Homo sapiens: one gene and its partner. The protein of the gene in region 1 purifies or fractionates together with the protein of each later gene. This does not show direct contact. Each region holds a gene or a part of one and is shown on either strand. Other genes may lie near its edges. The genes, in order: SPDYC and RBFOX3.

The links.
Region 2: the proteins of SPDYC (region 1) and RBFOX3 purify together in Homo sapiens (affinity purification with mass spectrometry; one large-scale study listed by BioGRID and IntAct). This does not show direct contact.

Annotation. Positions count from the first base shown.
Region 1 is NC_000011.10:65,168,806-65,173,115, reverse strand, and holds the start of SPDYC (speedy protein C), read right to left. Parts: upstream 2,884-4,310; 5' UTR 2,855-2,883; intron 1,790-2,854; 5' UTR 1,759-1,789; coding exon 1,617-1,758; intron 1,174-1,616; coding exon 1,115-1,173; intron 871-1,114; coding exon 785-870; intron 683-784; coding exon 511-682; intron 433-510; coding exon 102-432; intron 1-101. UniProt on the Homo sapiens protein: Promotes progression through the cell cycle via binding and activation of CDK1 and CDK2. Involved in the spindle-assembly checkpoint. Required for recruitment of MAD2L1, BUBR1 and BUB1 to kinetochores.
Region 2 is NC_000017.11:79,096,920-79,100,720, reverse strand, and holds part of RBFOX3 (RNA binding protein fox-1 homolog 3), read left to right. Parts: intron 1-2,954; coding exon of another isoform or gene 2,955-2,975; coding exon 2,976-3,029; intron 3,030-3,296; coding exon 3,297-3,429; intron 3,430-3,801. UniProt on the Homo sapiens protein: Pre-mRNA alternative splicing regulator. Regulates alternative splicing of RBFOX2 to enhance the production of mRNA species that are targeted for nonsense-mediated decay (NMD).

The DNA of each region.
Region 1 (4,310 bases):
CGACCCCAGGCCCATGGCCCTCTCTCTCATATTGTTGGTCCTCACTCCTGCCTCCCAAGCTCCCACACCAGCCCCCAGCTCCTGTCCCATCCTGCACTCACTGCGGAGGGAGTAGGTGCCTGGTTCCAGTTGCATCTGGGGAGGCAAGACGATGAGAAAGTCCCCACCCCAGGCGTTTTTGACCCTTGAGAGATAATTTTGGGAGGGAGGGCGATGACATTCAGAGGTCAGAGAAGGGCACTTGGATGACACAGGCTTAAGCAAGTGGCTGCTGCAGTGCTGGGGCAAACCACAGGGGGAACAGTGGGGCGGCGAGAGGCCAGGGCCCCGGGGAAGGCGAACAGGGACCTGTGGACAGACCCTCTGAACCCCACCATGGTGGGGGCGCCGGTCCCGAGTCCAAGCCCAGTGGAATGGCTCCTTTGCCATGACCTGGGAGGAGCAGAGTGGACAGTAAATGGGGTGGGAACCCCAGCCTTCCCCACACCCCAGGTTGCCTCCCAGCCTCACCTCCTCACAGCACTGGCGGCTCACAACAGCCCGGAAACCCATCCGTGCCCAAAGCTTATCCCTCTGGTGCAGGAATTTCCCCACTCGTAAACACCAATCTTTTCCCAGGGCCCATGGAAAAATCTCACATTTGGGGCCCTCCAGGTCCTCCTCCATGTCGTTTGCAAGGTACCTAGCCACAGAGGCACAAGGTCAGGGAGCAGAGGCCACACATCTGCCCTGTCCCATCTGACACCTCCAGCAAATGCCTCCACTGCCTGCCCCCACCACTCACAGGGCCAAGAACAGGCTGCTGTGGGTATACTCGCTGAGCTTCAGGTGGGCGCGCTGGAAGTAGACCAGCACCATGGCCAGGAGATACTGCAGAGACAGATCGGGGTGGGGGGTTAGTTATTCTCTGAGGAGGAGGGGCTTGCACCCAGGTTCATTTGCACCCAGGGAGGTTTTGCTGCAGGGAAAGAAAGTCAGTAAAATGGTGGGAAGTGGTGTGCAAAGATGAGGGGGTAAGGATGGAAGGTGAGTGGCTCTCCCTACCAGACCAGGGCACTCAATTCCCACCAACTCAACCTGACCCTCAAGAGACCCCCAGCCTGTACTCCCTCACCTTATCTGAAATCTGGAAGCAGGGGTCTTTGGAGAGGAATTCCTGGACAAAACTGTCCTCTGAGGGTAGAGAAGACATGACAGGACGCAGGTTACCACCACCTCCATGGAGAAGAGTGGCATCAGAAGCTCCAAAGCCCAAGCCACCACTGAACCCTCTCTCTCTTTCTCTTTTTCTCCCTTTTTCTCTTTCTCTCTCTCTTTCTTAATATAAATAGAAATGGAGTCTCACTATGTTGACCAGGCTGGTCTTGAACTCCTGGCCTGAAGTGATACTCCCATTTCAGCCTCCCAAAATGTTGGGATTATAGGTATGACTCACGGTGCCTGGCCCTGAATCCAGTTTCTGAGAGGACACCCCTCCCACCTGCCTAAGCTGGGATACCTGAGAGGGAGAGGGTCAGAGGTCTCAGATGTCTGTACAGGCAGGTGAGACCCCACACTTCACATCTGCTTTCACACTTGACCTCACGGCCCCTCCCGTGCCAGCCCTCCAAACTCACCCAGAAGGCTGAGGAAGGCCTGGACCTCCTGGTGCTGGCGAAAACGGAGGAACCCATTGCCCCCACCTTGCCGGCTGCAGCCCCCCAGCTCTACCTGGGTGGTAACTACAGGGGAAGTGGTGGGGTCTTGGGAGTCACTCATCTCATAGGAGATGGAGATGGGGCAGGGTGACCTGTAGAGAAAGGAGGCTCAGGACTTAGCATGTACCCCCGTGATGCTCACAAATCAAGAGGGTGGTGACAGGGGCCAGGACGGTGGAGGGGTGGGTGCAGAGACTTGGGGGCTCAGAACAGAAGGCAGCCGGGATGCAACAAGAGTGGGGAGGCCAGAAAAGAAGCAAAGAGTTGCTATAGGTGAGGGTGTGGCACCCTCACCCTCCTCCTGGCACCCCAGGACAGGCCAGAGTAACAGCAGCAACAAGCACCGCTGAGGGCTTCCTAAGTGCCTGGGGCTGTGCTTAAGGGCCTTATCTTATTCCATCCTGGTAAGGAGGTAAGTTTAACTCAGACCGGTCGTCAAACGAGGAAACTGAAGCTGAGGCCTAACAGCCGGTTAAAAGTGAAGCCCTTGGTCTCCAAAACCCCAAGAGGTTTTTTGGTTTTTGTTTGTTTGTTTTGAGACACAGTCTCTCTCTGTCGCCCAGACTGGAGTGCAGTGGCGCGATCTCGGCTCACTGCAACCTCCGCCTCCCGGGTTCAACTGATTCTCCAGCCTGAGCCTCCCGAGTAGCTGGGATTACAGGCATGCGCCATGCCACCACGCCCGGCTAATTTTTTTTGTATTTTTTTGGTAGAGACAGGGTTTCACCGTGTTGGCCAGGCTGGTCTCACACTCCTGACCTCCCAAAGTGCTGGGATTGCAGGCGTGAGCCACTGCGCCTGGCCAAAAAAAAAGAAAAAAAAAACCCAAGAGTTTAACTGCTCCTCTAGGCCCCAACTCACAACCACCCCCGACCCCTCACCAAAGCAGAGTTGAAAGGGCCACTGATCCCTTACACCGAGGGGAAACTGAGGCCCTCAGGGAGGAATGAAATTAGAAAAATACCTGGATTTAGAGCAAGTTGATGGGGCCACTTCAAACATTTCAAGCTCCCGTCCTAAACCCACCCTCATCCCTGAGAGAGAGAAGCCAACCACGGGGCCGAGGAGAACGTGCGGTCGACCACCCCAGGGCCAATCTGGGCCCCTCCATCTAGGCGCCCGCAAGCAACCCAGCCTCCTCCTGCAGCGAGCCTTACCCGAGCTCAGGAATGGCCCAGAGCATAACACCAACGCCGCCGCGAGTGCGCTTATATAGCCTGAGGGCGGCCCTGCCCAAAGCAGCCCGTCCACCAATCAGGGCCTTCCTGGGGGGCGAGGCTTGGCCTTCACCGCCTGCCTCTCTGCCAGTGAGTCCAGTCGGCACCCAGCTGTGGCTCCCCAGGGTTTGAAAGCCTCTCCAAAGCTTCATCAACTACAAGAGGGGTGAAGGCAGGCCAGCTGGACCCCAGGGCCTAAGGCCCCATAGGACAGGCAGGGAGCTAGGATCCCTGTTCCCCTCTTGACAAATGCAGCGCCAAGGTGCTGAGCCGGGATATGAGACCCGGACTGCGAGGGCCTGGTGGGCGAGTTTTTTTTCATTGATTGTGCCTTGCTAGGGCAGGGTCTCTGGCTCTCTATGGGTGTCTCTGAATCTCCTGGCCTCCTTGAGTCTCTAGGTTTCACTGAGGCCCCCCGAGTCTCTCTTTTGTTTCTTATTTTATTTTTCCCCTCGTAACACAGAACAAGCTGCCTGGGTCTCAGTGGGCCTCTGAGTCTCTCAGTTTCTTGTTGCCTCTGGTGTCTGGATGTCTGTGGATCTCTGGGTCCTTTGTTTTCTCTCTGATCTCTGGTCTCTGGTGTATCTGCTGTTTCATGGTCTCCCCCAGGCCGCCTCCCAGGCTCCCTGAGGCCGTGAAGGCCTTTCTAGACCAGCTGGTCTGCATCAGGCCATCCTGTTTGTGTGTGTGCACGCATTTGAAGTCGGCCTCCCCTAGAAAGGAAGTAGTGAGTGGGGCAGCATCCATAGCCCGTTCACTAAACACCTACTGCTGCCTACTGAGGAGTCTGTGATGGAATCAGCTCACGTGTTCCTCACAGCAAGCCCGTGAAGTTGATGAGAATGATGAGAAGCCTCATTTTGTCAGCGAACAAACAACTAACACACAGAGTTTGGGTTGCTGACCGACAGGCTGAGTAACTTCCTGCCAGCCACTCAGCTGGTAAGTAGAGATAGAGTTCCAGCCTGGCTGCTGGGCCCACACGCTGGGTAGCCTGGCTGTGTGGTCTACAGCTGTTCCTGGACGCTGCCTGCACAGAGAAGGTGTTCCATGAAACCGAATGAATCTCCTAGACCAGCTGTGTTTTCAACTGTTCTCCTCCTCCCCCAGTAATTAAGGTTAGAGATCAGGAAGGTGTACCAAAAAGAAGCCTGGGAGTGGGCTAGTCACTTTAACTTTGGGAGGGCCTTCAGGCTGATTTCCTTCAGTGCCACCCCTGGAGATCTGACACCGATCTCCCACACTGGGGAGAATATTTGTTTTTACTTTTTTTTTTTTTTTTTTTGAGACGGAGTCTCGCTGTGTTGCCCAGGCCGGAGTGCAGTGGCCCAATCCCGGCTCCCTGCAACTTCCACCTCCAGGGCTCAAGCAATTCTCCTGCCTCAGCCTCCCGAGT
Region 2 (3,801 bases), on another chromosome or scaffold:
CATTCCTGCCAGGGAGCAGCTTCCCACTCGGACCCCTTAGAAGCCTCAGCGCTGCCCCTAGACGGGATGGATCTCCCTGTTGCCGTGGACTTTCAGACGGTGTCACCCCCAGCCTCTCATGGCCCCCCATGTGATCGGCCATACGTGGAGTCAGGTGACAACCAGCATGGAAGCCTGGACAGGACCGCCCGATCCGCCACCTCTCCCCCGAGCTCTTCTCCTGGTGTCCGATGCTGGGGTGGGGCCGGGCCTCTGGCCTGGCCCAAGTTAGACTTGATTCTCATGGCCTCATATCCTGCTTTTCTGAGGACTTACACATCTCAAATTCTTTTTAAAAATTTGGGAGTGTTCCCACTTTGCAAGCATCCCGAGTGCGTCCTGGGTGTGACTCTTCTGTGATCTGGCACTTGGCACAGGAAGTAAAAGCGGTAGACATTTTTATAGGGTACAGGTGATCAACCAGCGGGGCTGCAAAATCTCTGGAACCAGCTGCCCACTCTGCACCCAAGGGCCACACCCACCGCTGTCTGGGCAGAAGTGAGAATTCAGGGGAGCATGGAAATCAGAACAGACCCATCTCTGAATGGCCTCGGGCTATGCGGCTCATGAGGGGCACGGAACCTACACCAGTGAAACATCAGGGAATGGAGGGAGGTGGGAACCTTTGCCCACCTTTGCAGCAAGAGCCGTTTCATCTCAATCTCTTCATCAGCCTGGGCACAGAGGGCTGCAGTGGGACGGCCCTGGGTTCTCTGCAGGTTGGCACCGAAGCCAACCCATGGGCTCTGGTGGCGAGTGCTGCGTGACTTGGCTTCAACACTACCCAACACTCTGGAATTCATCAGTTGGGGGTGGAGGTTTCCATTGTAGAAAACAAACCCACCAGGTTTGCCCAGGTGTTAACTATTTACGGTAGAAACAGGCCAGCCAGGCAGTCTCAGGCTGTCTCTGCCATCTGGGGTTCCAGACAGTGAAATGGAGGCAGCAGAGACAGGTGGAGGCTCCCAGAGAGGCAGAATTGACAGGGGAGGGCACCCAGGAAGCCAGAATCACCGGTGGAGGCATCCAGGAAGCCAGAATTGACAGGTGAAGGTGCCCAGGGCCATCTGAAGCACACATGCAGCCTCCAAGTCTCACTCGCCCAGAGTGGACCCAGAAGAGTCACTGGATGGAGCCCCGGGGAGTCTGGGCTTGGGGTCAGGGTCTCCAGGACTCTGCTCCATCATGGGCCTTCTAGTAAGAAGAGTCAGTTCTTCGGACTGGAGGTCTTCCCAGAAAACAAAACATTTCTTTCAGCCTGATGCAGTGGCTCATGCCTGTAATCCCAGCACTTTGGGAGGCTAAGGTGGCAGGATCCCTTGAGCCCAGGACTTCAAGACCAGCCTGAGCAACACAGGGAGACCCTGTCTCTACAGATAGTTTTTAAAATTAGCTGTGGGTGTAGTGGCAGGCACCTGTGGCCCAAGCTACTCGGGAGGCTGAAGTAGGAGGATCGCTTGAGCCCAGGAGGTCGAGGCTGCAGTGAGCCGTGATCGTCCACTGCACTCCAGCCTGGGCAACAGAGCAAGAAACTGTGCCCCCCTACCCCCAAAAAAAGTTTCTTCCTTCCTAACCTGGGATTTATCTTTTTGGAAGATTCCAAAGTCCCAGCAATGGCGTCCAGACACAAGGTTGTGTGATGGTGGGCCGGGGATGCGGGGTGGGGTGAAGACTTGGCCAGAGGGAGGAACATACCCCGACCCTCCGTCCTCACTGCCTCCAGTCTGCCTGCCCTGCAGTGGGGTTGTTAGAATCTGGGTCAGGGGTTCACACATGGCCTGGGCCCACTGCCACCCTCTCCAGATGTATCTCCCCAGCTGGCCAGTGGGCTCTCGTCCCTGCTGTTCCTCCCCACCCAGTGCAAAGGGACAAGGAGCCGGGCCCACGGGGCATGCTGTAGAGATAAGACCTGGGTACACTGAGGAGGGGTAAGGGGCTGGGCCTCGTCAAGAAGCCCTCCTGCCCAACCTGTCGGAATGCCTGGAGCCGGAGCCCACTGCAAGGCAGCTGGTGTCCCCCGCAGAGGCCTCCAGGTGGAGCAGGTCTTTGCTCTGCTCCTGGGTTCCCCCGGGGAGAGGAAGACTGGCCCACCTGCAGGAAGGGAGAGGCTGGGATGCCGATTACAGGCTGGGATCCCTGGCTCTGCCACTCCCCAGCTGCTGACGGGAGGTTGCTGTGCCTCTCCAGGGCTGTTTCTTCATCTGCAAAATGGGGAGGGTGTGGTGGCTCACTGGGCAGGGAGGACCCCGTGAGTTTCGAACAGTCTGTGTGGCTCACACACAGTGTTGAGGAAAACCAGCCCATCCTTATTATCATTCCCAGTCCAAATGCCCTTTCCTCCTCGACCTGCTCCCAGGCCACCCTCCCGGACAGCCGCTCTGGGGGAAGATGAGGACGGGAGGAAAGTGAGAGCAGGACTCAGCACGGGGAAGAGGGAGCAGGACGGGGACTTTGGCAGGCAGTGGGGAGAGCTTATGGGCAGAGTCCAAGCGCCTTTCCTGCAGCCTCTGGCCACCTGGAGCTCGGATGGTGGGGCTGTGCTGAGTCTGACTCCAGAAACCCTCATCCCAGCTGTGCTCAGGGGGGTAGATAACAAGTTCCACTTTCCCTCTCCAGTTCTCTTCTGGGAGGTGGGTACCCCAGGCTTCGGGGGATGACGCCCAGGGGTGAGGGTTGCTCAGGGGCAGGCTGAGGAGGATCACAATTGGGAAAGAATCCTAGCAGACCCCCAGGCAGAAGAGTCAGGAAGGAGTAGACCCTGGTGTTTTGAACTCAGCACTTGTCCGGGCAGTGTGGGAAAGGGGGGCCCGGCGCGGGGAGGCGCCCTGGGAATGTTCCCAAGGGCTCCACCGGTGTCGCTGGGGTTCCCAGGCATACGTTTTGGTGGGAAAAGGGTCGGGGAAGGCAGTGACTAGGTCTCTGTGCCTTTGTTTTAGGCTGGAAGCTAAATCCAGTGGTCGGCGCAGTCTACGGGCCTGAATTCTATGCAGGTAAAAGCTGGGGCGGGGCGGGGATGGGATGAGACCAGCTACTTGGCCCCGTGGGGCTCCGGGGGCTCTGGGGGCGGGGCATGAGGGGCGGGGCCAGGTGGGCCGTCCCCGCCCTCCCGTCGCCGTGTTGACTGAGTAGCGCTCCGGGGGCGGGGCTTGGGGAGGGGTTGGGGGCTAGGTGCGCGGGGGGGCTAGGTGTACGGGGAGGGGGTGCCAGGTGGGTCCCCTTGTGCCTCTCACACGTGTCTCGGGCCCCGTTTCCTGCAGTGACGGGGTTCCCCTACCCCACCACCGGCACAGCCGTTGCCTACCGGGGCGCACATCTTCGGGGCCGGGGCCGGGCCGTGTATAATACATTTCGGGCTGCGCCACCCCCACCCCCCATCCCGACTTACGGAGCGTGAGTACCTGGGCCGGGGGAGGCGTGGAGGAGGGGGTAGGACGGCGGGGAGGAGGGAAATGGGGAGGCCCTGCGCAGTGCGAGGGGCTAGGCAGCCTTTCCAGACCTGGGGGGGGGGAGGATCGTGGGAGCCCCAGAACTCAGCCCTGCAGCTGCCTCCATTATCTTCACCCCTATCCCCACCACGGCGGGCATCGCGGAGGTCACTGGCATTTAGGGGGACATTCAGAGCCCCAGAACCTTGTCTGGATGCTTTAATGGGGCCGTTGTCCACTCTTGAGGTCAGCGAGGGGCTTCTCTGAGCCCTCTCTGCTCCCATTCCCTGGGGTCTGGTGCCCTCCATCACTAAAGGGGTGGGGGGCACAGCTGCCT